Linked DNA regions of Homo sapiens: all the other regions are linked to region 4. The links come from fine-mapping of genetic effects on gene expression. A gene starts in region 4. Each other region holds a variant in brackets. All regions are shown on one strand. Distances are from middle to middle.

Region 1 (4,356 bases), 72 kb before region 4:
GAGCCGCCGATCCCCCCGACACAGCCCCCCGGGAGCCGCCGATCCCCCCGAGACTGGCCTGCACCTGCACATCTGGGGGGCGGGGCCCCGAATTGTCCTGCCACAGTGGCCCCGCCGGCAGGGAGATCAGAGGAAGAAATAAAACCCTCAGGCCTCACCTGGGATCCAGATTCGAGGCCGGAAGAGCAGACTTTGCCGGGGGCACTCACGCAGATCCCCACGTCTCAGGGCACCGCAGTCCTATTACCATAAGCGATCATGCAAAGGTGTGGTAAAAGCCATCTGTCATTCATAAAATGTGATGATGCCTTTCTGCAAAGACATAAGCCATCCCAGGGCTCAGCCAAGAAATGGCCATAAAATCTGGCATAATGACCTCAAAGCACACTTTCCAATATAAAGGTTATTCTAGGCAGCTGTTTCCTGATTATTTACGTGCAATAATTTTACACCCCCCAGACTCTGACACGCTCACAGCCTGACGCCCTCTCTCATCAGCAGCACTGAAGCGTCTGTGCGGAATTCTTACGATGTCGTGTTCCCTCAGCACCCATTTGGGGCTTTGTCCTCCCAGAATCGGGGCTCAGTCACCCTTGACACAGTTTCCAGTTCTCTGCCTTCCCCCAGTATCTCAGGGTGGTCCCTCCAGACACCTGCCTTACTCAGACGTCTCCTGGTGACCACCCCGCTATGGGACAGCCCACAGGACTCGCCCAGACCCCACACCCTGCAAGGACTGTGTAGCTGTCCCACAGCAGACCCCTCCCAGTTCCAGTGTGACCTCGTGGGGCTGTGGCCCACTGGCTGAGTGCACCCACCAGAGCTTCCTGTGGGAACCTGCTTGGGCAATACCCTGGACCCCAGTGAAGGCTTTGACCACAGCCCCTGTCCCTCTGGCTGTGTGCGTCCAAGACAGCGCCCCGTTCCCACCACCAGCCCTGCGAGGGGGCTGCCCTCTTCTCTCTGGATCTGTGAGTCACGCTGTTAACTCCAGCATTTTGTGGAGTTGCCACCTGAGTCTCACCTGACTGGCACACCTCAACCCACCTCTCCTCCCGTCGGCGTGGTCCTTTGGCGTGGCTGTCTTGGCTGGAATAAACTGCATGCAGGTGTCAGCCAGTCTCCTGTGACAGGGACACTCGGTCCCGGGTCGGACACCTCGGCCTTAGGCCGTCCACCAGGACAAAGAAGGGCCGACCTCTGGAACCCCAGGTTAGTCGCCTGGAAAAGGGAGGAACGGTCACCACGACACTGCCCCTGCCCGCAGCTTAGGGACGTTTCTGAGGTAAACGAGATAATGGTTGGAGTGTTGAGCACAGTCTGGCCACAGAGAACGTGAGAAGCCATTGCCAGTGTCATCATGTGGTAATTGGGAAGTTTCCGTGAACCGCTGCAGCAGGGAGTTTAAAGAAGATCAGCAGAGGCCAAAGACTCCTTAGCGGCAGGGAGGGGAGGGCAGAGAAGAAATCAGGTGGGGGAGGTCGAAGGGAAGTGGGAACGGCGGGCACAGACGTCCCTGAGCCCGGATCCTGGTGCCCTCACCCTAAGCCAGCAGCCCACGACCACCCAGAGGCCAGGAGGCCCCCAGAGCCCCCAGCACCCACGGCTCCCTCCAGTGGGAAGAGTAGGATCAGCCCAGAGCCCCTGCTGAGCCTGGACAAGGGGAAGGAAGGGGAAGCTCAGCGTGGTCACCCGGCAGTTTCTCCACTCTGAACCGCGTGCTGGGGGTCACGGGGCTCCCGCTGCTGACGAGGAAGCAGGGCCCACCCTGTCCAGCCTCGGCCTCTGCAGACCTGAGCGCAGCCCCACGTATCCCCACGATGGTTGCCGTCCCTGCGTGGGTTTTATTTTCTCCACTCAGCGTCCTGTGACCACAGAGATGGCGTGAGGTAGGAAGCTGTACAGCCCCAGCACGGGGCCCACGAGAGGAAGTCTCCAGCAGCAGCTAATCCTGGGCGGAGATGACAGCCCGGAGCCTTGGGCTGTTTAAACTCCAGCTGCACGGAAAGCCTCCAGCTGAGAGAGTTTCCCAGAGTCTGTCCCCGGGGTCGAGCCTTCGGGGGCCAGGCCATGGGAGCTGGGTCTTCCTGTGCCTGGAGCCTTGTCCCCTGCGGACCTGCAGTGTGGCCAGATGATGAGTCTTGCACTGAGCAGAACTCCTTGGGCCTTAGGGGGTTCTGCCACCACCCAGCCATCATTGGCAGGGCAGGGAAGGCCGGCCCACACCCAGGTCTCGCTGCCTGGACCCTCTGGGGGAGCAAGCTTTGAGCAGGAGAGGGGCCAGGAGCCCCTGAGGAGCAGGAGCGAGGGCTCAGAGCCACAGAGAATTCCTCAGCCAGGCCTGTGACAAACACAGCTGCCACTCCTCTTCCAGCCCCACTGCCCCAGCCACATCACATTGGTCCTGGTCACTCGCAGGGAAGG[G/T]CACTCACTGTCCAGGGAGAAAACCCATTCCTTTCCTCTGGTTCTCTTCCCCAAAGACATGCAAATACTTTTTCCAGGAATTTTCTAACAGCAATGATGCACGGACCCTTAACTTTAAACTGACCTAGAGGCCCAGGAGAGCCCAATTATTTCTGGCACAGGCACCTGGGCACAGGGTCTGGCCTGGTTCACTCTGGAGTGCCTGAGTCATGGTGGAAATTCAATATTTGTTAAGGAAATTGGCAAAAGGATGAATGAAGAAAGAGAACATTGCACGGTGTGTTCAAAATGTCCGCAGCTATATTCCGCTGTGAATTCAGGAGCTTGTTCCACAGTGTGTTCAAAACGTCCGCAGCGACATTCCGCTGTGAATCCATGAGCTTGTTCCCCGGTGTGTTCAAAACGTCCGCAGCTACATTCTGCTGCAAGTTCAGGAGCTTGTTCCTAGGTGACTCCGGCACATAGGCTGGAAACACTACACTCACCGGGGGCTCAGCCCCGCACACCTGTGTGGGGAGGGAGCGGGGAGCGTCGGGGAAGAAGGAGGGGCCCGCCCCGTGAGACTGCGGCCAGGTCCTGCCCACGTGCCTGCTCTGCTGGGCTTGCAGCCAGGCCACCTCCCTGGCCCGGACCCCTCAGGGCCTCTGGACAGGGGCTGCAGGCTGCCTCTGGACTCTGCTCCTGGACTGGCCTCTGCTGGACGGCGGCGCCCTGCACCTCAACAGCCAGCCACACCAGGCATGGCCGTCACCTACAGGTGAAGCTACAAATTTAACCTCATATAAGGGAATATAACCATGGCCAAGGAGCGAGGCAAGGCTTTTTAAACAACATGTCAACAGCACAAATCAGAGGCAAGTGAGAACCAAGTTTTAAAAAGATGAATGTGGTATAATCAGCATTAAAGTTTCCTGTTCGGTCTGGGACTCCTTGGACCAAGCATTACTGGGAGGCAACCTGAATGCCCTCGGTGTGAGCGTGGAAAGATGGCAGCTTCAAGGCTGGGCTCCGCAGTGGGGCAGGCCCCGCCCTGGACGAGCACGCGGCCACACAGAGGGTCCTCTTGAGCACGGTGACTCCCGTACCCGTAACAGTCAGGCCGATTCTTCAAGAAAACATACAAACTAAAAGATGTCAAACACAGCAAATTGGCTGCCCATGGAGAAGGGTGGGAACCAAGAGAGGCACTGGCAGGAAAGGGGACCAGTCGGTGAGTGGAGAGAACCTGAGGGTCTGTGGGGCCAGCTTTCCCAGGTGCTAAGGAACAGGACCTCAGATCTCTGAAGCTAAGGGCTGGGGGAGCAGAGGAGGGAAGATGGGAAAGAGGGAGGGAGGAGTAGGGAGGGAGTGGGAGGTGGAGAGGAAGGGAGGAGGGAGGAGGGAAGGAGAGAAACGGAGGGAGGGAAGAGGGCGGAAAAGACAGGGAGGAGGGAAGGAGAGGCAGGAGGGAAGGAGGGGGGAGGAAATGCAGGAAGGAAGGAGAAGGAGCAGGGAAGGAGAGAGGACGGAGTAAAAGGGAGGAGAAAAGGAGAAGGAGGGAGGGAAAGGGGTGGAGAGGGGCAGGGGAAGGGCAGGGAAAGGCGGTGATAAGAAAGGGCATGCGAACCTGATAAAGCCAGACCAGGGTGTCCGATGTGCATCCATTTCCTCTGATAATAGGCTCCTCCCCAATAGCACAAACAATAAAGAGGAAAAACACGATACTATTTTAGGAATGGAGGTAAGTACGTGAGTGGAGATTCCAGCATCATTTGAAGATGACCAGGCAGCCCGCAGCAGTGGGGACCTCAGCGGCCCTCTGTGAACCCAGGGTCCCAAACACGCATCGGGAGACCCAGCAGTGGATCCTGACAGGTACATCACACCTGGAGTGGGAAATGCCTCTCTCTTCAAGAAGCCGTGAAACCTCTTCTTTAACTTGAACTTATGTCA
Region 2 (4,356 bases), 90 kb before region 4:
ACCTAACGGACGTATATAGAACACTCTACACAACAACAGCAGAATATATAATACATTCTTCCCAAGGGCACGTGGAATATCTTCCAAGAGAGACCATATGATCGGCCACGAAACAAGTCTTAACAAATGTAAGAGTTTGAAATTATAGAAAATATATGTTCTGATCACAAAGGAATGAAACTAGAAATCAACAGCAGAAGGAAAACGGGAAACTTCACAATTAGTGAATATTTAAAAACAGACTCTTAAGAAACCAAAGGATCAAGGAAGATACCACAGGGAAAAATAGAGAATATCTCAAGACAAATGAAAACAAAAACGCAACATACCAAAACTTATAGGATGCAATGAGAGCAGTATTAAGAGGGAAATTCATAGAGGTGAAAACTTACATTTAAAAAGAAGATGGATCTCAAATAAACAACCTAACTTTACATCTCAAGGAACTAGAAAAAGAAGAACAAGTTAAACATGAATTAGCAGAAAGAAGGAAATGGTAATGATTAGAACAGAGATAAACACAATAATAGAAAACAATAGAAAAATCAACAAACTGAAGAGCTGGATTTTTGAAAAGATCAACAAAATTAACAGAAACTCTTAGCTAGATTAGCTAAGAAAAAAAGAGGGAAGACTCAATTAAATCAGAAATGAAAGAGGCCCCTTACAACTGATGCCACATAAATAAAAAATATTGTAAGAGAATGTCATGAACAATGGCTATATACCAACAAATTGGGTAATCTGGAAGAAATTGAAAAATTCCTAGAAATATACAACCTACCAAGATTGAATCATGAACAAATAATTATCTGAAAAGACCTATAACTAGTAAAAGATTGAATTAGTCATCAAAAATCTCCCAAAAAAGAAAAGCCCAGGACCAGATGGCTTTACCGGAGAATTCTACCAAGGATTTAAATAATTAACAGCAATCCTCCTCACATTCTTCTGAAAAGCTAAACAAGAGGAACACTTCCAACCTCAATGTATAAGGCCAGCATTATCCTGATACCAAGCCCAGACAAGAAAGCTACAGGAAAAGAAAACTACAGACCGATTTTCCCGATAACTGCTGATGCCAAATCCCCAACAAAATACTAGCAAACTGTATTCCGTAGCACATTAAAGGATTATACTCCCTGACCAAGTGGGATTTACTCCTGGAATGGAAGGATGGCTCAAAATATGAACATCAATCAAGATAATCTGCCACACTGTCATAATGAAGGACAAAAACTACACGACTGTCTCAATTGATAGAGAAAAAGGACTTGAGAAAATCCAACACCCTGTTATGAGAAAAACTGTAACTCTGCATGGTTGCGTCCTGTTTGCACCCTGAAGTTCTCCAGACCTACTTTCCCAAAGGACCCAACAGATTCAAGCCTCATCTGCAGGAGAATCGAGTCTCTTCCATCTCCGCGGGCCTGGGCAGGTCTGTTTCCTCTCTGGGTCTGCCATTCCCTTCTGACCAGGGATAGAGATCAGCCTGGAAAGCTGTAAGCTGCACCTGCCTGAGGAACCTAGGTGTGCCCTTTCCCTGTGACCCTTCCCTGAGGGTGTTCCAAAGGCACATGGCAAGGCTGCTTCACCCCAGTCATTCACGGGACCCTGGGCCCTAGGAAGCCAGCTCCAGGCCTCTCCCTAGCATCACTGATCCAACAGGCTTGAACACACACCCTCCTTAACTTCCCTCCTTTCTCTGCATTGGAAACTAGGGGAGAGTTATTTGCCTAATTATGCACGTTGTTTAGTGCCTTTGAGCATCAACATTTAGTGTTATGCTCCTGAGAGGCCAAGTGCTTTACAGCATTTTCTTCAGTATTATATTCCATGTTAATTGCAAGCAGGCCTATTAAAGGCAGGGCTGACTTCACAAACAGCCAGCAAAAGCACAGAGGGGCCGCACTTGCAGGCAGCAGGCCTCAGGCTCATTAAGGAGACCCAGAAAGCTGAGGACTCCTTGCCCTTGAAAGGCCCTGTGTACAGCCAGCATGCCGGAAAGAGCCTCGGAGCTCCGTGGATTTCAAGGCAAAAGGGAGCCAAACATGCACGGATGCCTCTTTCCTGTGCCTGGGGGTTTGTTTCTTCAGGAAATTCCAAATGGGTCTCATTCCCTGGAATTTCAATTGCACCATTGCTTAGTCACTCAACAGTCATCTGT[C/T]ACTCACCAAAGCCACAGAGTGGGGCCTGAGGGTCACTGGTGTCATGGATACACTTGCTGATTTGTGACCCAAGTCAGGTCTGGATTACAAAGGGCTTTGAATGAATGACTGAGGTTTTGAGGCCAGATGATAGAGAAAGGCAGCCATGGGGGATTTTGGAGAGAGGCCAGGGTGAGCGGTGGGAAGACCAGGCAGGAGAGTCCAAGGGCATCCGTGGAAGCGCACCTGGGGTGGAGAGGACTCGTGGTCCAGATGAGGCACCACTGAGCCGCGTTGGGAGAAGCCTGCAGATGGGAGGTCACTTGGCTGTGAGCAGATCCACGCCTGGGAGGTGGCAGAAGCCAGATGGGATACCATAAAAATCCACATTTAATTTTTCCACTGGTGTGTGCGCTTCTGGAACTCCCCACACAGCAGCCCACACAGCAGCTTAGGAGTGGGTCCATATTCCGACTACTTCATCTCTGGTGTAATCATGACACTCTCTGGCTACCCCAGGAGGGCATGCACCAACATGGCGCTGGGCATAAATTTGAGACTGAGCTGCCTTAGGTTCGAGTCCAGCTCTGAGCCAGCCAGCTGTCCTCAGCAGTGCTCTGGACCCCTCTGCCCTTCAGTTCCTCATTTATAAGGTGGGAGTAATGGAAGCATATCTGAAGCGTGAAGCCGGGGCCTTGTCTGCTCTGAGCTCCCTCAGGATGTTCCAGGCATGTAATGGGGAGAGCAGAGGCTGAGACCTGAGAGCCAATCACATGTTTCCCATCAAGAAGTTTCGACACAGATTCTAAGTCTGAGGAAAAAGGCAAGACTACGGTTCAGCAACAAACTGGGGACTTCAATAACACACTTTCGTTATGAGTAGAACAAGTAGGCAAAAGATCAACAAAGAAATGTCAGATTGGATCAGTTGGCCGGCATCTGCAGAGCATGAGAGCACGCCACCAGCAACCACAGAGCACGCCACCCCGCAACCGCAGAGCACTCCACCCAGCAACCGCATCCGCAGAGCACTCCACCCAGCAACCGCAGAGCACTCCACCCAGCAACTGCATCCGCAGAGCACTCCACCCAGCAACCACAGAGCAGTCCACCCAGCAACCGCATCTGCAGAGCACTCCACCCAGCAACCGCAGAGCACTCCACCCAGCAACCGCATCTGCAGAGCACTCCACCCAGCAACCGCAGAGCACTCCACCCAGCAACCACAGAGCAGTCCATCCAGCAACCGCATCTGCAGAGCACTCCACCCAGCAACCGCAGAGCACTCCACCCAGCAACCGCAGAGCACTCCACCCAGCAACCGCATCCGCAGAGCACTCCACCCAGCAACCGCATCCGCAGAGCACTCCACCCAGCAACCGCATCCGCAGAGCACTCCACCCAGCAACCGCATCCGCAGAGCACTCCACCCAGCAACCGCAGAGCACTCCACCCAGCAACCGCAGAGCACTCCACCCAGCAACCGCATCCGCAGAGCACTCCACCCAGCAACCGCATCCGCAGAGCACTCCACCCAGCAACCGCATCCGCAGAGCACTCCACCCAGCAACCGCATCCGCAGAGCACTCCACCCAGCAACCGCATCCGCAGAGCACTCCACCCAGCAACCGCATCCGCAGAGCACTCCACCCAGCAACCGCATCCGCAGAGCACTCCACCCAGCAACCGCATCCGCAGAGCACTCCACCCAGCAACCGCATCCGCAGAGCACTCCACCCAGCAACCGCATCCGCAGAGCACTCCACCCAGCAACCGCATCCGCAGAGCACTCCACCCAGCAACCGCATCCGCAGAGCACTCCACCCAGCAACCGCATCCGCAGAGCACTCCACCCAGCAACCGCATCCGCAGAGCACTCCACCCAGCAACCGCATCCGCAGAGCACTCCACCCAGCAACCGCATCCGCAGAGCACTCCACCCAGCAACCGCATCCGCAGAGCACTCCACCCAGCAACCGCATCCGCAGAGCACTCCACCCAGCAACCGCATCCGCAGAGCACTCCACCCAGCAACCGCATCCGCAGAGCACTCCACCCAGCAACCGCATCCGCAGAGCACTCCACCCAGCAACCGCATCCGCAGAGCACTCCACCCAGCAACCGCAGAGCACTCCACCCAGCAACCGCATCTGCAGAACACTCCACCCAGCAACCACATCCGCAGAGCACTCCACCCAGCAACCGCAGA
Region 3 (4,356 bases), 140 kb before region 4:
TAAGAAAATGTGGCACATATACACCATGGAATACTATGCAGCCATAAAAAATGATGAGTTCATGTCCTTTGTAGGGACATGGATGAAATTGGAAATCATCATTCTCAGTAAACTATCGCAAGAACAAAAAACCAAACACCTCATGTTCTCACTCATAGGTGGGAATTGAACAATGAAAACACATAGAAACAGGAAGGGGAACATCACACCCTGGGGACTGTTGTGGGGTGGGGGGAGGGGGGAAGGATAGCACTGGGAGACATACCTAATGCTAAATGACGAGTTAATGGGTGCAGCACACCAGCATGGCACATGTATACGTATGTAACAAACCTGCACAATGTGCACATGTACCCTAAAACTTAAAGTATAATAATTAAAAAAAAAATTAAAAAAAAAAAAAGAAATATCATCTCACCCCAGTTGTGATGGCGTTCATCAAAAAGACAAAAAATAACCAAGGGAACTCTTGACACTGTTGGTGGGAATGTAAACCAGTACAGCTACTGTGGAAAGCAGTGTGGAGGTTCCTCACAGAACTACAAACAGAACTGAGGTAGGAGGTGGGACTCAACTCCAGAGGTGGGGCTCGAACACCGGACCAGATTGAGGACTAGCTAAAACAGGGCTGGGGCGGAAGCAGCTTTCAATCAGACACACCCACCAGTGCCATGGAAGTTTATCGTTGCCATGACGACACCGGGAGTTACCGCTCCTTTCCATGGCAATGACTCAATGACCCAAAAGTTACTATGCCTTCCTTAGAAATTTCTGCATAAACCGTCTTTAATCCGCGTGAAATTAAAAGTGGATTAAACATGACTGCAAAACTGCCCCGAGCTGCTCTTCTCTTCTTACAGGGCAGAGAGGGTAGCCCTGCTCTGCAGGAACCGTCTCAGAGCTGTAACATTTCTTCTTTATTAATAAAGCTGTTTTTGGCCGGGCACAGTGGCTCACGCCTGTCATCCCAGCACTTTGGGAGGCTGAGGTGGGCGGATCACGAGGTGGGAAATTCAAAACCAGCCTGGCCAAAATGTTGAAACCCCGTCTCTACTAAAAATACAAAAATTAGGTGGGCGTCGTGGTGCGTGCCTGTAATCCCAGCTACTTGGGAGGCTGAGGCAGGAGAATCTCTTCAACCCAGGAGGCGGAGGTTATAATGAGCCGAGATCGCTCCACTGCACTCCAGCCTGGGTGACAGAGCAAGATTCCGTCTCTAAATAAATAAAGCTGTTTTCTTCTTCCTTTGGCTTGCCCTTGAATTCTTTCCTGGGCAAAGGCAAGAACCCTTGCAGACTAAACTCCACCTTGGGGCTCACCTGCCCCACATCAGAACTACCATAAGATCCAGCAATCCCACTCCTGGACATTTATCCAAAGGAAAGGAATCGGTATATCAAACCAATATCTGCAACCCCATGTTTATTGACAATAGTCAAGACGTGGAATCAACCTAGGTGTCCAACAGCAGATGACTGGATAAAAAACGTGGTATATACACACAGTGGAATACTAGTCATCTGTAAAAAAAAATGAAGTCCTGTCATTCATGGCAAAACGGATGGAACTGGAGGACATTATGGTAAGTGAAATAAGCCAGGAACAGAAAGTTAAATACTGAATGTTCTCACTGACATGTGGAAACTTTAAAAAATGTTGCTCTCATAGAAGTAAAAAGTAGAACAGAGGATATTAGAGGCTGGGAAGGGGAGGGAGAGGGGACGGATAGGGAGAGATTTTTTAAAGGATATGGAATTACAGCTGGATGGGAAAAATAAGTCCTATGGTTCTTTGGCACTGTAGGGTGACTATAGTTAACTATAATTCATAGTTTCAGATAGCTAGGAGGAGAAATTATCGTGTTTGAGACGATGGATGTGTTCGCCACCCTGATCTAATCCTTGATTCATTCTATGTACTGCAGCATCCCTGTGAACCCCACGAATATGTGCCATATTGTGTCAATTAAAAAAATAATAAGAAGTAATTGAGAACCCTAATAAGTATGGTTTATCTATTAACATTTACCATGTTAAAGATGAAAATGGAGAACAATTTAAAATCTTAAGAGTATTAGTCTCTAGAGGGACAGGACTAATAGGATAGAAGTGTATATGAAAGGGAGTTTATTAAGTAGTATTGACTCACACGATCACAGGGTGAAGTCCCACAGTAGGCTGCAAGCCGAGGAACAAGGAAGCCAGTCTGAGTCCCAAAACCTCAAAAGTAGGGAAGCCGACAGTGCAGCCTTCAGTCTGGGGCCAAAGGCCCGAGAGCCCCTGGCAAACCACTGGTGTAAATCCAAGAGTCCAAAACTGAAGAACTTGGAGTCC[G/A]GTATTCAAGGGCAGGAGGCATCCAGCGTGGGAGAAAGATGAAGGCCGGAAGACTCAGCCAGTCTCGTCCTTCCGCATTTCTCTGCCTGCTTTTATCCCAGCCACACTGGCAACTGATGAGATGATGCCCACCCAGATTGAGGGTGGGTCTGCCTCTCCCAGGTCCACTGACTCAAATGTGAATCTCCCTTGGCAACACTCTCACGGACGCACCCAGGAACAATACTCTGCATCTTTCAATCCAATCAAGTTGACAATAGTAACCATCACATTAAGTAACCAATTAGTGAAAACTCATAATGAATCCATTATGCTAATGAACATCAAGGATTATGTTATGTTCATAACATAACATGTTACGAAAATAACTATATTTTCTTTAGAAACTGGTGACAGGAGTAGCATTGTTTAGATGTGTGAATGCTCCTGCTGCCTGGCTCCTGGGAAACAAGTTTCCCATGTGGAATTCTGTATTCAGTCTGCAGTGACATCACACGTCAGTTGCCTCTGCACACTTGTGAGAGAACGGGAGTGGAAAAGGCACTCAACACTTCAGCCATGAGAGGAAACCTGTTTGAACTAAGAGTCCCCTAAGAGGGGAGCCAGCACCACTTAAAAACCTTTAAGTACTCTCAATAGAAATCTTTAGTTCACAAGATGTTTTACAAATACCTTATCCTAGTCTCCATATCATTTGTGGAAGGGAAAGTTTAGATTTTATTATTATTTTTTAAAAAATTATTATAGATATATTTATTATTAAATTTTAGTCAATTTTATTAATCTTTTGATCATGTGATTTTTCTATGTATTTTGCGAAATCCACAAAATGTATTCAAAATATATTTTCTTATATTTTCATCTAAAGAGTCTTGCTATATTTATAAAGTTTCTCAGTCCACCTGAAAATAACCTTTGTGTATGTCTTGAGGTATAGATCTAAAGGTATCTTTTTTCAAAATGAAGAGCCAATTGCCCAAACGATTGGGCACTTTATTTGTTTTCTAATAGACTAAGTTTCAACACAGAAGAGGGTCTTCTTTGGTGCTCTGTACTCTTTTCCTTTGGTCTATTTTTCTCTTCTACCAAGATATCATGTGGCTGTAATTGCAATGGATTTATATGGTGTGCTTATATCTGGTGTAATGTATCCTCGACTTACTTTTTCTCCTTTAAAAGTATCTTGGTTATTATTGTCCTGTATTGTTTTTGGAGTCAGCCAGTCAAGTTTTAAAAAACACGTAAACAGATGCAGGTGAACGTGTCCCCATGGGTGTGTGCTTGGTGGGAACTGCATCAAATTCATCACCTCACTTGGGGAGACTTCATCGCTTTACCATGCAGGTCTCACCACACCTCCCCATTTATAGACATCTTTAAAAATATTCTTCACTGATATCTTTATTTTTTCATAAAGTTATTACCCTTGTCTTAGTTGATGTATTCCTAGGTAACTGATAACTTTTGTTGATGTCAAATGAAATTGCTTTTTATAATTATGAATTGGGTACTGCTGATAGTTTTGTTTACTAGTCTTGTGTCCAGTTGAACTCTCTTATTTGTTATGACCTTTTAAAATGTAGATTTTTATAGGGTCAATAAAGAATGATGGTTTCCTTTTATTCCTGACCCATTGTTCCACATTTAGTTCATTTTCTTGCATTATTGCACAAGCCGGTAACTCTACCCGAGGTTGCATAGAAAGGGTACATAGAAAGGGCATATCTTTGCCTTGCTCCTACCTCCCAAAGGCAGTTTCTGAAGCTTCACTGTCACATGTGGTGGCTGCTTTTTCTAGTCTATGATTTAGATGCTGCTTTTGCATCAACTTAGCTGTGGATTTTTTTTTTAATGAAGTTTCACTCTGTTCCCCAGCCTGGAGTGCAGTTGTGCAATCTTAGCTCCTGCAGGCCTAAGTGCTCTCTATAAACCCCAAGTGCAGCAGGCGGGAGGAGACTCTGGCTATGCACAAAGTTTGCTGGTGGGAGGACAGAGCCAGGAACTCTGTGTGTGTCAGTAAAAT
Region 4 (4,356 bases):
ATGTCCATGTGTGTCTACATGTGCCTGTGTCTGTATCTGTGTCTGTCTATGTGTCTATGTGTGTATCTGTGTGTCCGTGTGTGTGTGTCCATATATCTGTCTATGCATGTATCATCTGTGTGTCTGTGTATTGTGTATCCATGCATATATCCGTAACTATGGGTATGTCTGTGTGTGTTTGTGTCCACGTGTGTGTATCTGTGTGTGTCTATATATCTGTGTCTATGTGTGTGTCTGTGTCCACGTGTGTGTATCTGTGTGTGTCTATATATCCGTGTCTGTGTGTATCTGTGTGTATCTATGTGTGCATCTGTGTGTGTCTGTTTTCTCTTTGTTTTTATGGTGTCCACGGATGGGCCGACTGAACCACCAAATTCCTCCTCAGAGCCCAGTAAAGGCACCAGGCGGAAGGGTCTGGCGGAGGGTTGGCCGCTGTCTCCTCACTCCTCAGCGGGGTCCTGTCTTCCGACTTTTGTCTCGCGCCGCCGCAGCCTGTGGACTCCTGGGCCCTCCTCTGAGAGCCTGCGCTGTGCCTGGCCCCGGGCGGAACTTTGAACGAGGCTCCTGTCTTAACTCGACTGCTTGTGCTTGGGGGAGATAAACAATAAACAGGAGCAGAAGAAAGTGTCCTCAGACCACGGCGGGTGCTGTTGGGAAAACAGTGGCGGGGCAGGGAGGGGGGCGCTTCTGAAGGACCTGGCGAGGTAGAGGCCACTGTTCTAAGAGGCAACAGACGAGATGAACCAGGACCCTCTGCGAGGGAGGGAGGCGTCCAGGGGTGCACACGGGTCCAGATAGCTGCCGGGCTCCCAAAAACCACTCTGGGGGTGAGGATGGGAGGGGAGAGGAGTTGGGGGCAGGAGGCAAGTGAAAGTAAGTGCCCAGGGAACCTCCATGAGGCCCCCCACACCGGATAATAGTGTTCCATGGGGTCTGCTCAGCCCCATGTCTGCCCCAAGACACTAGCCACAGCTCTGCGTCGAGGTCCTGTAGACCACGGGAGAGATGGGGGGGCCAGGAGCCTATAGAACTCCAAGTCCAAGGGGACCCTTGCTGGGAGAACACAGGCCAAGACCTTCCTTCCTGCCACAGGCTTCTGTCCCTGCTGTCTGCTCCCCCAGGACTCCCCCCACACCCGGGATCTTCCTCCTCACCCTCCTTGGCCTCTCTCAGTGACCCTGTCTACACACAGATGTGCTGTCCATGTGAGTGGAAGGAAGGAAGGATGAGGTCCACTCACAGGGGTGAAGCTGTCTCCTGAGGGGGCAGCCCACCTCCAGGTCACACCGCCCCACCCAACACAGCCTCCAGTCCAGCTCCAGGTGGGCCGCACCCAGCCCTTCACTCACTTCAAATGGCCCAAGACGCATGGATTCCACTGGCCAGCCGGACTGGAACAACTTCTCCCCTTATAAGTATCTAGTGGGTGCCCACGGAATGCCAGGCAATGGGCCAGGCTCAGAGATGAGTGATTCCTCAGGAACAATGGGCTCAACGCCCTTAATTCACATCAGAGGAAACTGAGGCTCAGAGAGGGCGGAGAGGGCCCTGGTAACACAGCCAGCCGGTGAAAGTAAGAGGGGGGGCCCAGGCCCTGCTCCCGGCCCACCCGCCTGGGCTTGCTGGCGAGGCTGCTGGCCCAGGCAGTCTGGGCACTGTGGAAGCAGCCGGCTTGAGGCACAGGGGATGTGGCCTCCTCCCACACACTTACCTCCCTGACTACATCTTAGGCTGACATCCAGATTAACTCATATTCCCTACAGGGAGCTGCACGGCCAGAAGCTGCTGGTTGCAGAAGCCACCAGCTGGTTGTACAAGCACCGCTCCCCTGGTTGTGGGTGACAGATGAGATGCACTCACGTGAACACACATGCATGTGCACACACACATGCACACAGACGCACACACAAACACACACAGGCATACACACGCACACGCACATCCACACACACACATGCGCACACACACGCACACGCCTGCACTCACACACCCCCGTCGGCCCCAAGCAGGAAGGCGCCCCCGGCACACCAGCCCCTCTCAGCGCCCCCAGCGGGCCCGGCGCCTGGAGGGTTAAGGCGGGCGCGTCCCGCGGGTGGGCGGGGGGGGGGGGACGGGACCGGTGCCGGGAGCTCCGCTGCCCTGGCGTCCCCTGGGTCCAGGCCCAGTCGCTCCTTGGGCCTCTCTCGCGGGGCCGCCTCCGCCTCCTCCTTGCCGAGACGGGCGTGGGGCACGGGGTCGCCGCCCGGCGGGGAGCTCATCCGGCGGCGCAGACGCCCCGCGGCTCCGGGGAGGGACTTGGCCTGGGCCCCGGCCCCGCGCTCCTCTGGGGAGGAGCCGAGAGGCTGCAGCTGGCGGCGGCGGCCCCGGGCGGGAGGGGGTCCCAGGAAGCGGCCAGGCCGGAGCCCCCCACTCGGCCGCAGCTGCTGGCCTGGCCAGAACCGAGCGCGCCCTCCCGGTCTCCGCCGCTTCCCTCTGCAAACCGCGGGCAGGAGGAGCCCTCTCCTTAGCGGGCCCGGAGCTCAGAGGCGTCGCGGGGCGCGGCCGAGGGGAGGAGGAAGGAGAGCGGGAGCGCAGCCGGCCCGGGCCCAGCCGTGACTCGTGGGGCGGCGGCTCCGCCAATCTGTGGGCGCTGACGCGGGGGGCGGCTCCGCGGCGCTCGATATCTGCCCGCCCGGGACGCGGGGCGCCGAGAGGCTCGGCCAGGCGGGAGCTGCGCTCGGGGCGGCCGCTGCACCTGCCCGGGACCCCGCCGGCCGCTCCCCGCGCCCACCCCTTCCGCCCTTCGCCCCCCCCTTCCCCCCAGCCCCGGTCTCCCGGGCGCGGCGTGAGAGCAGAGCCCGGCCCGGAGGAGCCGCCCCTTCCCCGCCCGCCCGCCCGGCGCCTGGAGAGGAGCGCGCTGAGGATCGGGACGCCTGCGGCCGCCGCCACCGCCCAGGCCCGTCGCGCCCCGGCCGGGATGGACCCACACGCCCGATGAGCCCCGCGCCGGCGGCTGCGAGCGCCGAGCCTCCCCCTGCTGCGGCCCCAGCCGCCCCCCGCGCGCCCGGCTCCGCGGACCAGGACCCCTGGGCTCCCCGGCTGAGGGCGCGGCCGCTCCGGAGAGGCCGAGCGGGGACGGGCCCGAGATGGCGCGGGGACCCAGCGCTCCGGCGGCGGGCGCCCTGCACGCGGCCCGGGCCCGGGGACAGCCCCGGAGCTGGTAGCCGCCCGGCACCGATGGACCTTGACCCGCGAGGCGGCGCCGCGCTCGTGCCCAGCTGCAGCTAGAGGGGCGCGCGGGCAGAACGCGCTCCAGGCCCGGGCCGGCCCGCGCGGCCATGAAGATGATGCTGGTGCGCCGGTTCCGCGTGCTCATCCTGATGGTGTTCCTGGTGGCCTGCGCGCTGCACATCGCCCTGGACCTGCTGCCCAGGCTGGAGCGACGCGGCGCGCGGCCCTCGGGGGAGCCCGGCTGTTCGTGCGCGCAGCCCGCCGCCGAGGTGGCCGCGCCCGGCTGGGCCCAGGTTCGGGGCCGCCCCGGGGAGCCCCCGGCCGCCTCCTCCGCCGCCGGCGACGCGGGCTGGCCCAACAAGCACACGCTCCGCATCCTGCAGGACTTCAGCTCCGACCCCTCCTCCAACCTCTCGTCCCACTCGCTGGAGAAACTGCCGCCCGCGGCCGAGCCGGCCGAGCGCGCCTTGCGGGGGCGGGATCCCGGCGCCCTAAGACCCCACGACCCCGCGCACCGGCCGCTGCTGCGAGACCCCGGCCCGCGTCGGTCCGAGTCGCCCCCCGGCCCCGGCGGAGACGCCTCCCTCCTGGCCAGGCTGTTCGAGCACCCGCTTTACCGGGTGGCGGTTCCGCCGCTCACGGAGGAGGACGTCCTGTTCAATGTGAACAGCGACACCAGGCTCAGCCCCAAAGCGGCGGAGAACCCGGACTGGTGAGTGGGGGCTGGCAGGTGCCCACCCCCAAGGGAGCCGTGAGCCCAAGGCATGGTGTAGAGAGGTTCAGGGGCCCCAGAGGGCCGCCCCCCATGGAAGAGGCCGGGCAGGGAGTGTGGTGCGGGAGGAGGCAGCCGCCTACCTCAGGGCGCTGCCTTTGTCTCCAGAATAACCTCCTCCTTGGGAGGGGCTGCCGGCTGGTCCGGGAGCTGTGCCCTGTGGCTGCTGGTGAGGAAGCCAGACCCCGCGCCCTTTAGAAGCGAGTCCTGACCAGCCGTGGTCACCAGCTTGGGAAATGGGGTCAGGCAATGAATGAATGAGTTGGTGAGGGAAGGAGCCAGGCTGCCGCTGGGCTTTCAGACACTTGGCGAGGGTGCTCTGGGTGGGCACCTTGGAGAAGGTCTGGATGTGCCTATTGAGTCTTTTAAACCCA
Region 5 (4,356 bases), 84 kb before region 4:
AGATGTGGTGTATCCGTACAACAGGATGTTATTTGGCCATGAAAAAGAATGAAGTACTTATAAAAAAAAAGAAAAAGAAAAAAGAAATGAAGTGCTGACACAGGCTACAAGGTGGATGAGCCTGAAAACATTATGCGAAGTGAAAGAAGCCAGTCGCAAAAGACCACGCACTATATGTTTACATTTTGAGAAACGTGCAGAACCCATAGATACAGAAAGAGGATTTGTGGTTCTTTAGGGCTGGGGGTGGGGGCAGGGCTGGTGGCTGAGAGTAGCTAAAGGGTGTGGAGTTTCTTTTTGAGGTGGTGAAAATTTTCTAAAATTGACTGTAGTAATGGCTGTAGAACTCTGTGAATATACTGAAAACCATTGTACACTTTAAATGGGTGAATTGCATGGTATGTGAATTATAACCCAGTAAAGCTGTTTAAAAAATAGTGGGGGGCGGGTGGAGGGAATGAAGAGAAGGTGGTTAATGGGTACGAATAAACGGTTTGGTAGGAGGGGTGAGTTCTAGTGTTGATAACACAGTGAGGGGATTATAGTTAACAACAACATACTGTATATTTTGAAATAGCGAGAAGAAAAGATTTGAAATGTTCCCAACATGAAGAAAGGATAGACGTTCGAGGTGATGAACGTCCTAAATACCCCAATTCCATCATTACACATGGCATGCGCGTATCCAAATATCTCATGCACCCCATAAATATGTAAAATGTTATGCATCAATAAACAATTAAAGGTATAAGCGTTGCAGAGTGTCTTCCTTCCAAATAATACAGTATGAAAAGGGAAAAAGAGCAACTTTACAGTGGAGAAAACTGGAAACCTCTGCCTCAGCCACATCGCCGAGGTTGACATCACCGGTGACAAGTCACGCAGACAGCAAGGACGTTGGTGTGATGCTGTGGGAAGGTCACTTTCCATCCTCCCCACAACCCGTGACCCCAAACTAATCACAGGAAAAAGATCAGACAAGTCCCAAATGAGGGACATTCCACAAAATACCCAACCAGTCCTCCTCAAAACTGTCAGGATCACTAAAAATAAGGAAAGTCTGAGAATCTGTCACAGCTGCGAGGGCCCTAAGGAGACATGAGGGCCAACTGTAACATCATACTTTGGATTCTGAGGTAGAAAATGGATATTAAGGGAAAACTGAGGGAATGTGAATAAAGTATGGACTTTAGTTCCTACTACTGTATCGACATGGGCTAATTCACTGTGACAAAGGTACAGTATAATGTGACAGGGTAAGAGTAGGGGAACCTGGGTGTGGAGTATACAGGAACTCTGTGCTATCATCACAATTTTTCTTTATATCTAACAATGTTCTAAAATGAAGTTTATTTTAAAAATAAAAAATAAAGACAGGGGTCCTTGATATCAATAAACCCCATGAAAATACATTCATTAATAATCAGGGAAGCACCTCCCCCAGCACATGTGCATATGACACCCATGCACACACTCAAGCACACGTGCACATGACACCCAGGCACACACTCAACCCAAGCACATGTGCACATGCACACCTGTGCACACACACTCAACCCAAGCATGCATGCATGTGTGCATCTGTGCCCACAGTCAACCCAAACACGTGTGCACCTTACACCCATGACACACCCAACCTGAGCACATGCACACATGCTCAACACAAGCACGTGCACACATGCATACCCATGCACACACAATGCAAGCACATGCACTTCTGTGCACACACATGATGCAAACACATA[T/C]GCATTGCATGCCCATGCCCATGCAGTCAACCCAAACACGTGTGCACATGCACATACTCAACCTGAGCACATGCACCCATGTACACATGTGCACACACACTCAACCCAAGCACACATGCACATGATACCCATGCACACACACTATGCAAGCACTTCTGCACATATGTGCATGTACACATGCACTCCATCCAAGCACATGTGCACATAGACACCCATGCATGCTCAACTAGAGCACATAAGCAGATACATACATGTGCACACACACACAACCCAGGTATGCATGCACATGCACGTCCATCTGCACACTCAACCCAAGCATGTGCACACACACACACTTGTACACACACACTCAACCCAAGCACATGTGCAGTTGCACGAATGTGCATACACAACCCAAGCACACACTCAACCCAAGCACAGCTCACCAGGGACAGAGGCCCAGGAACAGACTCTGACAAAACAATGAAGAGAATCCAAAAAGCAATTACACTGCCAAGTATTACGCAAACACAATTATTGGAATTGCTAGTCAAAAACGGTTAATAGAATAATTAAGATAGATTGACCTAAAAGCTGATTTTAAATTAACCTGACATGTGCATATACTATCTAAATAATACTCTTTCCTCTGATTTAGTCTCTCATTAAAATCAGATTTCATTGGGAGAAATTATACATTTGCACCATCATTGGGAAGAAGAAGCCATGTTCACTCACCCACTGATGAAAATAGGAGATTATTAGAGGAAGTAAAATGGGAATATATTTTCCTGGCCTTCCCTGGCACAGTGTGATCTGTCCCTGTAATAAACCACCGCTTCCTCCTAGCCTGCCACTCGGGAGGTGAGGGAAGCCAGTTAAGATGGCCTCAACTAAGGACCCCAAACCACTAGTGTCTGTGTGTGTCTGTGAAGCTCGCTCACGGGGGAAGGGCCCGTGGGGTGGGCAAGAGCAAGGAAGAGAAATGAGCACTTGGAGACGCCAGGCAACCAGGAAGACCCAGAGGAAACTCGGTACGTCTGCATTGAACACGTCTTCATGGGTGAGAAAACTGCAGCCAAGGAAGGAGAGGGATTGTTTCCAGGCAAACAGCAAGCGCTGGCAGAGAGGCAGGGACAGAGGCTGTTTTCGGCATCCAGCATCTCTGTTCAGCTCATGATTCCCTGCCACACCCCAGATAAAATGAACCCCTGTGGGGGTTTGTCTGTGCACGCGTCCAGGGCCTATCCTGGTCTGTGTGAACAGACTGGCCCTGCATCCCAGCACAGAAGCCTGGGCTGAGCACCAAAGGCCCCCAACTGCGGGAGGCAGGTCCTGGTCACTGCTCCCTCCACGGCCATGGCTCCAGTGTGCAGATCTCAGCTAGTGTCTAAAACACGAAGGCACTGGGTCACTACAGCTATGGGCCTCCTTGTTCATTGAAACCCTTGGAGTTACCTCGTTAACACTTTTTAAATGGATAGCCACTTCACATTTTTTAAGATAAAGAATTTCCCCATTAAAATTATTGAGATTCAGTAATAACACATTATTAGGATAAGCAGGACATGTAAGATGCTACAAAATGATCTATTACTTGGAGGATTTTAAAACCCTAATGAGAAAAACGCTCACTACCATTTATTCGTTCTCTTAGCCTTCAGCACCATTAGTCTGAGGAGCAGCATAGGGCTGGGGCTGGCTGCATCCACACTCACCCCTCTGATTGCTCCAGAACCTTTTCTTCAAAGAGAAATCTCTGCACTCTGCAGGGACGGTAAGTGGCGACCCTTAGGTAGCTGAAAGCACGGGGAAAAGAGCAGGAAGAGGTGGGAACATGGAGATGGAGAACACAGGGAGCGGCACGCTCAACGCAGGTGGAGTCTGTGTCCCCTCCAGCGATAGCCAGAACCAGGACCACCAGGGATCCGACATCACTGGCCCCATCCCGTAGGGTGGGCTGTGGGCAGGGAACAGCTGAATCGCCAGGCCACTCTCAGACCCTTGGCAGACACAAGGAATAACAGCTGTGGCCGCCGCTGTGGCCGCAGTCCCAAAGTTTGGAGAGAAATAGCAGCAAGTAGCAGCACCACTGTCCGTCAGCTTGAGTGCTTCTCGGACAAAGGAAGACAGTTCTCCTGTTTCCCAAAGACTTGCAAAGGCTGTGTGTTCCTCAGGCAGCTACTGCGCCATCGGCCTCTGAGTGATAAGGAAAGGAACCAGGGCTCAAACCTACTCCTGAGTGAGTCAAAGCAACTCCGCACTCCCTGCCAGCACTGAGGGTGACCCCCGAGCCCTGCTCAGGAGCTGTGGGGCCCGAGATCTCCCCTCCGCCCCGTGGGCAGGGGAAGGGCAGCAAAGGCTCTCTGCCACGCCTGTGTTCGGGCTCCAGAACTCTTGGCCTGGTGTCTGGAAGATGGGATTGCTGCCTTGGACAAGCCTCTCCTCCTTGCTTTTCCCTTTTTCTCACAGTGGGGTTTAAGCTAAGGTCCTATTCCTAGATCACTAATAATGATAGCAGGTGCCATTTATGAACACCTACTGTATCCCAGTGCTGCTCTCAGTGCTGTACCTGTATTCTCTCATCTCATTCTCTCAAGGGCCCAGTAAGGTAGCCACTTCATTAGCCATC
Region 6 (4,356 bases), 110 kb before region 4:
TGCTGCTCCAGCTGTGCTCACCTGGAGTGGAGGGGCAAACGGCACCAGGGGTGGGAGAGGTCAAGGCAGAGCCTCTGCCCCATCCTAGACCAGCTGCACGAGACGACAGCTCACACCAGCTGCCCAGAGGCACAGCCCCTCTGCCAGGCTTCAGCAGGGCACGGCTTGATCTCAAGGCCCTCTCTTCTCGTCCCACCGCCCCTCCCTCCTGTGACAGGAGGACCAGCAGTTCCACTCTGAGCCCGGCTGAGGCCCGACCTCCTCCACCTCAGCCCTGAGAATCTTCTCCAGCTGGGATGGCTGTTGCCCTGTTGTCCTGTTGCCCTGTTGCCCTGTTGTTCTGTTGTCCTCTTGTCCTGTTGTCCTGTTGTCTTGCCCTCCCAGCTCCTGACCACACAGGGGCTTTGTTCCCGCGCCAGCCTCTTTGGGGAAAGTGGGGGAGGGGGGCCCTGCTCCAGGCTCTGGGACATTTGGCTTGGGCTGTAGCCTGTGTCCAAGGAGAAGAAACCCTGAAGGTGGGTTCCCACCAGATGTGGGCATGGTCAGCTACATCAGGCCCCCAAAGGTGTGCACATCCTAATCCCACGAACCCGTGGGCACGTTACCTTACATGCAAGAGGGGCTCTATGGATGGAGTCGGGATAAGTGTCTAGAGATTGGGAGGTTGTTCTGGGTCATCCAGATGACTTATGAGAGGGCCCTTATGAGAGGGAGACAGCAAGCTCACAGAGAGGGCCATGGAACAACAGCAGCTCAGACACAGCAGAGGCCGCACAGCTGTCCTGGGTGCCGAGTAGCTGCAGAGGTCGGAGGAGGTGCAGAGCAGGTGTTCTGCAGCCTCCAGAGGGACCAGCCCTGCTGACTCCCTGGCTTTGGCTCAGTGAAACTCATTTCGGACTTCTGAGCTCCAGCTCTGCAAGAGAAGAAATCTGTGCTATTTTAAACCACTAAATTTGTGGTTTCTGTTTCAGCAGCAGTGGGAGAGGGCGAAATGCTCTCCAGCTTGGCACCCGCAGCCCAGCTCAAAGGCAGGGACTGTGGTTGCTTTGCAAATGAGGGAGGCTGGGTCCCTGCCCTCACCGGGCTTACCATCTAGGTTTGGAGAGGAGTGACGTAAGGTGAAGTCAGAAAAGAATCATAAGAAAAGAGAGTCCACACCCTGGAAGGATCTGAGGCAGAAGGAAGCTCTTGCTGAACCACCTGAGAGGAGGCGGTCTGGCCTGAGCACCCTGGGGGGCCTGCGCCCCCACTTCGAGGCCCCTCTGGAAGGTGCTTGGCTCTCCGGATGACCCCAGCACTGGGGAGACCCGCTGTGCTTTCCAGGCAGCACAGACACCTCGGTGTAGGTGTTGTGGTGCCACAGGGAAGGGTGTTTCTTCCAGCCTGGTTCTCAGGACGGGCTGCTGGCTGGAACAAACCCCACCTCTATCTGAGCCACCAACCATCTGAACCGGTATTCTCTCTATCTGACAAATATTCCTCCTTCTTTACATCCCAGAAATGGTGAAAATGCACAATGCCTCAGGACGCCTTGAGGAAGGAGCAGCGTGTTGCTGCTGAGGGTGAACACACGTGGTCTCTGAGGAGAGGCGACAGATCTCCCTGGGCGTCAGTCATCCTGGGACTGGGTGTCGTGGAAGAAGGTGACACCAGGCAGAAACCAAGAGCAGGGGAGCTGCAGGCCGGTATCAGAGCCCGTATCAGAGCAGAGTGGCCCCTGAGCGGGGAGGCAGCTGGAGCTCACTGTTGGAGGAGGGCCCGGCACCTGCACCTGAGGACATGAGTCTGAGGCCTGCGGAGAAGCCAGGTGAGACACCGCTGTGCTTCTCTGGGCCACGGCCCCTCACGGCTGCATCCAGTCACCAGAG[T/C]TCCTCTGTGCCTCACCCACCCTTGATCATAGAAGACAGCCTGCATGTCCTCAGCTCTGTCCTCCAACCGGCTGCCCGGGAGGCCTCCCTGGCTGCTCCCCAAACTGCACGTGCCCTGAGTCAGCCCTGGGGCCTCATGGACTCCCCTGTTCACGCATCCCGGCAGCGCGCAAACCATCCCTGTCGGCTCCCAGTGAAATGCTACAGGATCTCAGGGCAGCTGCACCCCGCAGGTTCAGAAGGGATGGGATTCTGTGTCCTTTTCCTTCTTGCTTCAGACCTTCACCTGGGGCTCTAACACCGAAAGTCTGTGCCAGACAGAGGCATCCACAGCGACAGGAGCCTGGGCCAGGGCGGCCATCCCTGCTGCAGAGACAAATGTCAGTGTCCATGGAATCAGTTCGGTGCGGTGAGCGGCAGGTCTGATATGAAAGCTACTCGCACTTCCCGTCTGGGCAAGAGCAGGAACTCGGCAGGCAGAGAGCTGGTGGAGCTTTCCATGGGAAAACCAGAACCTTCAAAGAGCCCGGCCTCCCTCTGATCAGCCCCTTCTTTCTGATCAGATGCATTATTGACGAGGCAGCCTCCTCCACCTGCCTCTCATCAGAGCAGCTCGTTTCCCACCGTGGTAATTTATACTTGTGATTTTGGCCTTGATCAATAAAGGCAACGGAGAAGACGCACCCGTTCATTTCCTACAGGAGGGGCGGAAACACACAGGCCTCTGTGCAGAGCTTTCCTGGGCTCTTCTGAAGGCAAGCAAACCCATCAAAGGGAAGATCTGCACGCTGAAAGGTCAGCAGTTCCCTTTTCCCCATGGGATTTGTGTTAGCAACTTTGCGAGTGGAAGATGCATTTGGAACTGCCAGTCCCTTACAGCCCTCACATGGGAGGTGCAATGTTCATCCTGTCACTATTTTAAAACTCGTCTCAGGGTTGGGAGTAACTGAAACCGTTTTGGGCTTAATTTTGCATGAGGACGTAGCAGAGCATGACAGAAGGGAAAAAGAGAAAATGCTGGCAAAGGAGAAATGGCCCTAAGAGGGAAGCCGGATCCCTAGCTGGGTCGGAGTAGATGAGCGGGGAATGAGGGGCTGGAGGATGCAGCTCCGAGCGTGCAGGGGTGGTGTGCTCTCGGGAGGGAGCTGCTGTGGAGCTACTAAGGAGGGAGGCTGAGGGGTGGGAGAAAGCCCAGGGCTGTAATCGTAGCCCCTGGAGCCTGATTTAAAAGACTGGAGGAGGCAAAACCTTTCCTGGGTGACATCCATCCAGGGCATGACCCTGCGGCCTCCGTGTCTGCTGTGGGCGAGGCTGTCCCTGCAGCCAGCCCTGCCCCCATCCCTTCCCTTCTAGGGATGTTGGAGTGTGGGGCAGCCCAGCTTCTGCCCACAGCACAGATGAGGAACTGAGGATGCAGGGGCCCGTGGGGGACGGCACACGGTCAGCCCAGAATTAGGACCTAAGGTTGGCCCTATGGGTTCCTGCAGCACAGACGTGCAGCATGTGCACCCACATGTACACACAATCAGGCATAGCCACAGAGAATCACACCCTCCCACGCACACCCACACCCACACACCCTCCCACAGGCACACGCGCACCCTCACACTCATGGTCTCGCCCTCCCACAGGCACACCTACACTCACCCACGCCTACAGGCACACAAGCACACACTCCTTTCCCCCCACAATCCCTGCACACCCGTGGGCACCTATGCTCTCGTGTGGTCTGGATCTGCCCTCTGTGTGCACAGCCTGTGCCTGGCCCAGCGTGAGTGACTCGTGGATGCTCTGCAGGTGAGACCTGAGGTGAGTGTCCTGGCACCGCCCGGGCCTGGCTATCGGGAAGCTCCGCCCAGACGGCCGCCTCCTCCCTGGCGCGGGCCTCTTCCCTAGGAGGAGCTCGTTAGCTTGTTTTTCCATCGGTATTCTTTGTCCCCAGTCACCCGGACCTGGGGCTGGGCACTGCCAGGGGCAAATGTGCCATGTGGAGAGGCCAAGCGGGGGACAGGGGCGGCTTGTCCGCCAGGTGGCACCGAGGCGGCTGCGTGTGGGGCAGTGTTCCCACTCTCGTCACCAGCCCGCACTTCCCGCTGCCTCTGAGTATTCTGTGGGGGCTGCCCCGGCTGCAGCCCCAGGTGTAGCCTGCTGGAAATCTCACGGTGTCCAGGCCCCATCCCTAACCGGCCCGGGGCATCCCTGATTTCGTGCTCACCGAGAGGGGCCTCCCTCGGCCTGCCCAGCTAAGAGCCTTGCAGGAGCCCTTCTCCAGCCTCACACTGCCAGCCCCTTTGAATTGCAGCACTCAGGTCCCCAGGAAAGGTGTTTTTATCCAGTTAGCTGTTTTTTATACTTATGAAAAAGCTCCGTCGCTTGGAGCAAAGCAGAGTTGATTTTCAGATGTGATTTCTGCAGGCAGAGCAATGTCTGGTTCCTGCTGTTTCTTCTGATGGGCGCGGCGGTGACTGAGGGTGTCCTGCGAGCCGTC
Region 7 (4,356 bases), 78 kb before region 4:
CATGATCCATCTCAAGATAATTTTGCATGTGGTGGGAGGTAAGGCTTGAAGGTTATTTTGTTTTTCCATGTAGATATCAACTTATCCTGGCACCATTTATTGAAACAGCTAGTTCTGAAAGAATTAAATTTTTACCTTTACCAGCAATCAAGGGACTATATAAATGTGGGTCTTTCTGACTTCCCCTTCGGCTCAGTTGGCCTCTGTGTCTTTCCTGATGCCAAAACCACACTGTCGTGATTACCATACCTGTATAGTAATTTTTGAAATCAAGTAGCGTGGGCCCCACAACCTTGTTCTTATTTTTCAAAGTTGTTTCTGGATATTTTAACCCTTTTGTCTTTCCATGTAAATCTTAGCATCAGCTGTCTCATTTCTTCAAAAGGACCATAAGTGGCACGGTAGTATATTGATGAGCAAAGACATACAATCGATTTTTCTATGAAAGTTAAATGCTGCAACTTGGCTAAACTAATTTTATTTGTACTAATAGTTTGGTTTTTATGGTGGTAAAATTCACATATTATAAAATTCACTATTTTCACAATTTTGAAGTGCACAATTCAGTGGCATCCAGTGCGTTCACCACGTTGTCGGCCCCAGGACATTCGCATCACCAAGAAAGGAGACACCACATCAATCGAGGTGTCACTCTCTGTTCCTCCCTTCCCCCAGCTCCTGTCACCACTAACCTGCGTTCTGCCTCTTTAGATCTGCCCATTTCGTATAACTGGAATCATATAACATGCGGCCCTTTGTGTCCGTCTTCTTTCACTCATCATGTTTTCAGTTTCAAGGTTCATCCATATTGTGGCATGTTAGGGCTTCATTCCTGTTTGTGGTTGATGAGTAGACCACGCTTTCTCAGTGCCTATGCTAGTTGTTTGTAAGTTTCTTAAGATACTTCCTCATACATGATTCATGATATCTGCATAAAGAGGCAGTTCTTCTTCTCCCTTTCCAGTGTTTATGCTTTAACTTTAATGTCATTTAAAGCTACCTGTGTCTCTGTTCTTCAAGTGCAATTTTGGAAGACAGCATGTGTGTGGGTCTTGTTTTCATATCTATTCTGACAACCTCTGCGTTTTACCTGAAATCTTTGGTCCACTCATATTTAAATAAGTATTGACATGGTTATGTCTGGGTCTGTAATTTTATGCCTCGCTCTCTATACATACCCTCCAGTTCCCCCCTTTGTTTCTCATTTCTTAACTTTTTTTAGGGTTACGTGAATATTTACTGATTGATTTTTCTCCTCATTATATTTTGTGAATATACGTGAATATTTATTGATTGATCTTTCTCCTTATTAAGCTTTTTCAGCATGGTATCACCTCAGTAGTAGAGCATAATCAGTCCTAGACTAATTTAGGCCCCACCCAAAAAAGCTTAAAATCAAGCCTCAAATATATCAAATTGTTTCCAAGTAAAGTAACTTCATCCCTGAAAAGTTTTAAAATAATTTTAGGAGTGCAAAACTATCCAGGATCTAACAAGGAAAAGTACATGATGTCTAGCATACAGTAAAAAATCACCAAGTATGCAAAGAGGCAGGAAAACACATCATGTAATGAGGAATATCAACAAATTGAAACTAATTCACAAATGGCACAGATGAGGGCATTCCTAGACACAGATGAACTGTAGTTATTATCACTCTATTCCACATGATAACGTTAAGCAGAGATATGAAAAACATTAAAAAGTCCCAATTCTAACTTTTAGAGATGAAACCATTTCTGAGATAAAGAAAATTCACTGGATGAGATGATGAGATTAGACAGACACTACAAAAGGAAAGATTAATGAACTTAAAGGTATATAATAGAAACCATCCAAAGTGAAACACAGACAGAAAATAGACCCCTTCAAAAGGAGCAGAAAGCTAATTGGGGGGCAACTTCAATTGGCCTAAAATTCATACATTTAGAGTCCCAGAAAGAAAACAAAGAAAAAAAAACAGAAAAAAAAGGAGGACATAATGACTGAAATCTTTTGAAATTTGCTTTTTAAAAGCTACATATCCCAGTCCAAAAAGTATGAAGTACGAAGAAGGCACATCTTAACCAAACTGCTTAAAC[TG/T]GGTAAGAACGAGACAATCTTAACAGCAGGCAGAAGAAAAGAGACGTGCTGGGTACAGAGGAACAAAGACAAGGATGACGACAGGTTTCTCCTTGAAAATGAGGCGAGCTAGAGGACAGTGGAACAAGCTCTGCAAAGTACTGCCGGGAAAAGCCTGTTGATTTGTGATTCTGTACCTGGCAACAAAGGTAGAAACAGGGTGAGATATCAAGTTTTTCAGACATATAAAAGCTAAAATATTAATCATACCAGCAGATAAGCACTAAGAGATATTAAAGAAAGTCCTTTGGACAAGAGGAAAATGACATTATAGGAGACCCGATAGAAGCACAGGAAGGAAAAGCATGTTTTGCTGGGTATAGAACATGTAGAGAAATAAAATATGTGCCCACAAGGACATGAAGGAGGGCAGGGAATGGAAGTGTGCTGCTGTAAGGTTATTAAACCATCATGATGTAGTGTAATATTATTTGAAGATAGATTATGATAAGTTGAAGGTGCACACTATAAACCCTAAAATGTATACACACACACGCACACATACATATGTACAGACAGAGTTATGGGGAATAAGCCAACAGAAGTGATTAAATGGGATGATTAAAAAATACCCAGTCCAGAAGAAGGCTGGCTAAGAGGAACAGGAAACAAAAAGTAGACAGGATAAATAAAATGCAAATAGCAAGATGGTGGTTTAAGTCCAACCATTATCAACAGTGATGGTAGATGAAAATGATCTATAACCATTGGTCTAATTCAGTGGCAGTTTGTCAGACTTAATAACAAAGCAAGACCCAACTAATTGCTGCCTACCCAAAACCCACTTTAAATATAAATTCACAAATACATGAAAACTAATGGGATTTTAAAAGATACACTGTACTAACACTAGTCAAAAAAAAAAAAAGCGGGAACAGCTATATTAATATTGAACAATGAACACAACCAGCATTATAAAGAAGGTCATTTTGTACCAGCCTTTAGCTGGGCTTCTTTTATCTGCTTTGAGTGTGTGCAGTTCAGGGCCAGTCGGAAACATGAGTAGAGTCCGCCAAGTTTCCCCTTCTGGACGCTCCCCCCCTCCACTGGCCACAGCTTCCCCAATTTCGTCCTGCTCCTGTTCCAGGCCATGAAGACTGTGGTCTTCCCTGAGGACCCCCAGCTCCTCATGCCCTAACTACATAGTGCTCAGGCTAACAGCCACGGTCAAAGAGAACGTGCTTCCTGCAACTCCTTTATCCCCCGTGTACACCCCAGGTCCGTCTTGCTGTTCACTCTCCAACGCCCACAAGCAGCCTGTTTGCATTGTGTACAGATTTTGAAGCTGTTTTCTGTAAGGGAGTGGGTTTGGTGTGATCTTACAAAATCCTTACAGGAAGCAGAACCAGCAATTACCCATCCACTTTTAGAACTGCCTTGTGCATGAACCTTTTGTCCTTTGAGTCACACTTGGAAAAAGTGTAGGCTTCGTCTGTTGCAAAGGTCATGGTGGCTTCACTCCAAGAAACTTGAGAAACAGTTATTGTTTTAAACAGGGCACAACTGCAGTGTCCTGAGGAGCCCTGCATGGCCATGGAGTTTGCTGGATGAGGGATATGGACGGGCTCCTGCAGCGAGAACAGAGACAGAGAGGGAGAGGGAGAGACAAAGAGGAGACAGAGAGGGAGAGGGAGAGACAAAGAGGAGACAGAGAGGGAGAGGGAGAGACAAAGAGGAGACAGAGATACAGGCAGAGAGAAGTGGGAGAGACAGAGGAGAGAGAATATCTGGCAAACACATTCCACTTTCGGATTCCTGCTCTGGACATGGAGGCCTGCTCTTCTCCATAAGCCCTCTCCCTTCCTTCAACGTCCTCGGGAAAAAGCGAAGCAGACCCTTTTCCCTCCCTCGCCCTCCTTGCCCTCCACAGGGGCTCTTTCCCATAACCTGCTGGCTGGTCTCTGTGGCTGAGTTCTGCCCATCCAGGAATGGACTCACCAGTGTCCCGGTCCAGCCCCATCTCCCCTCCACACTCAGGAGCTCCTCGGGTGAACTCGGTGCTAGCCAGGCACTCAGCACCAGGCTCGCAGGCTTCTTCCCAACACCTCCAGCCTGTGCCCCACCTGCACCCACACCCATCATTCTGCTCCGGGCTCTGCCCCGAGGCCCCCAGTTCCCTGAGCTCGCCCATTCTCTGGCCTTCACCCACACTATGGCCTCTGCCTGGCCTCCCTCAGCCGTGTGGACGCCTCCTCTCAGCATCTAGGATCTAGGCCCATCTCCACGCCGTCTCAA

Alleles and levels. Alleles are on the strand shown, and positions count from the first base shown. SD is a standard deviation of normalised expression in the study named. Not every link is listed here.
With allele C in place of T in region 2, the expression in fibroblasts of the gene that starts at base 2,689 in region 4 is lower (large effect, 1.2 SD a copy in GTEx).

The links. PIP is the estimated chance that this variant, and not a neighbour inherited with it, causes the effect.
Region 1: its variant is fine-mapped to the expression of FAM20C in whole blood (TOPMed, PIP 0.99).
Region 2: its variant is fine-mapped to the expression of FAM20C in fibroblasts (GTEx, PIP above 0.99).
Region 3: its variant is fine-mapped to the expression of FAM20C in whole blood (TOPMed, PIP above 0.99).
Region 5: its variant is fine-mapped to the expression of FAM20C in whole blood (TOPMed, PIP above 0.99).
Region 6: its variant is fine-mapped to the expression of FAM20C in whole blood (INTERVAL, PIP above 0.99).
Region 7: its variant is fine-mapped to the expression of FAM20C in whole blood (TOPMed, PIP above 0.99).

What each region holds. Positions count from the first base shown.
Region 1 is chr7:117,750-122,105 of GRCh38, forward strand. It overlaps LOC105375114 (a long non-coding RNA gene), which reads right to left and starts at 1,682. Exons shown (of 3, transcript XR_926959.3): 1 at 1,048-1,682; 2 at 159-312. RefSeq lists a silencer at 2,086-2,304. The variant G/T (reference allele first, on the strand shown) is at 2,425.
Region 2 is chr7:99,806-104,161 of GRCh38, forward strand. No RefSeq gene overlaps it. Among named protein-coding and RNA genes, the nearest start is that of LINC03015, 47 kb to the right of the region's middle. The variant C/T (reference allele first, on the strand shown) is at 2,168.
Region 3 is chr7:49,463-53,818 of GRCh38, forward strand. No RefSeq gene overlaps it. Among named protein-coding and RNA genes, the nearest start is that of FAM157D, 16 kb to the left of the region's middle. The variant G/A (reference allele first, on the strand shown) is at 2,334.
Region 4 is chr7:189,883-194,238 of GRCh38, forward strand. It overlaps FAM20C (FAM20C golgi associated secretory pathway kinase), which reads left to right and starts at 2,689. Exons shown (of 10, transcript NM_020223.4): 1 at 2,689-3,922. The coding sequence starts at 3,318. It overlaps LOC124901808 (a long non-coding RNA gene), which reads right to left and starts at 236. Exons shown (of 2, transcript XR_007060632.1): 1 at 1-236.
Region 5 is chr7:106,343-110,698 of GRCh38, forward strand. No RefSeq gene overlaps it. Among named protein-coding and RNA genes, the nearest start is that of LINC03015, 41 kb to the right of the region's middle. RefSeq lists an enhancer at 2,332-3,048. The variant T/C (reference allele first, on the strand shown) is at 1,746.
Region 6 is chr7:78,632-82,987 of GRCh38, forward strand. All of the region lies in intron 1 of LOC105375113 (a long non-coding RNA gene), which reads right to left. LOC101929756 (a long non-coding RNA gene) reads left to right here. Exons shown (of 3, transcript NR_187733.1): 2 at 1,499-2,663; 3 at 4,284-4,356. Among named protein-coding and RNA genes, the nearest start is that of FAM157D, 45 kb to the left of the region's middle. RefSeq lists enhancers at 2,899-3,671, 3,672-4,356. The variant T/C (reference allele first, on the strand shown) is at 1,869.
Region 7 is chr7:112,209-116,564 of GRCh38, forward strand. It overlaps LOC105375114 (a long non-coding RNA gene), which reads right to left. Exons shown (of 3, transcript XR_926959.3): 3 at 448-3,689. Among named protein-coding and RNA genes, the nearest start is that of LINC03015, 35 kb to the right of the region's middle. The variant TG/T (reference allele first, on the strand shown) is at 2,082.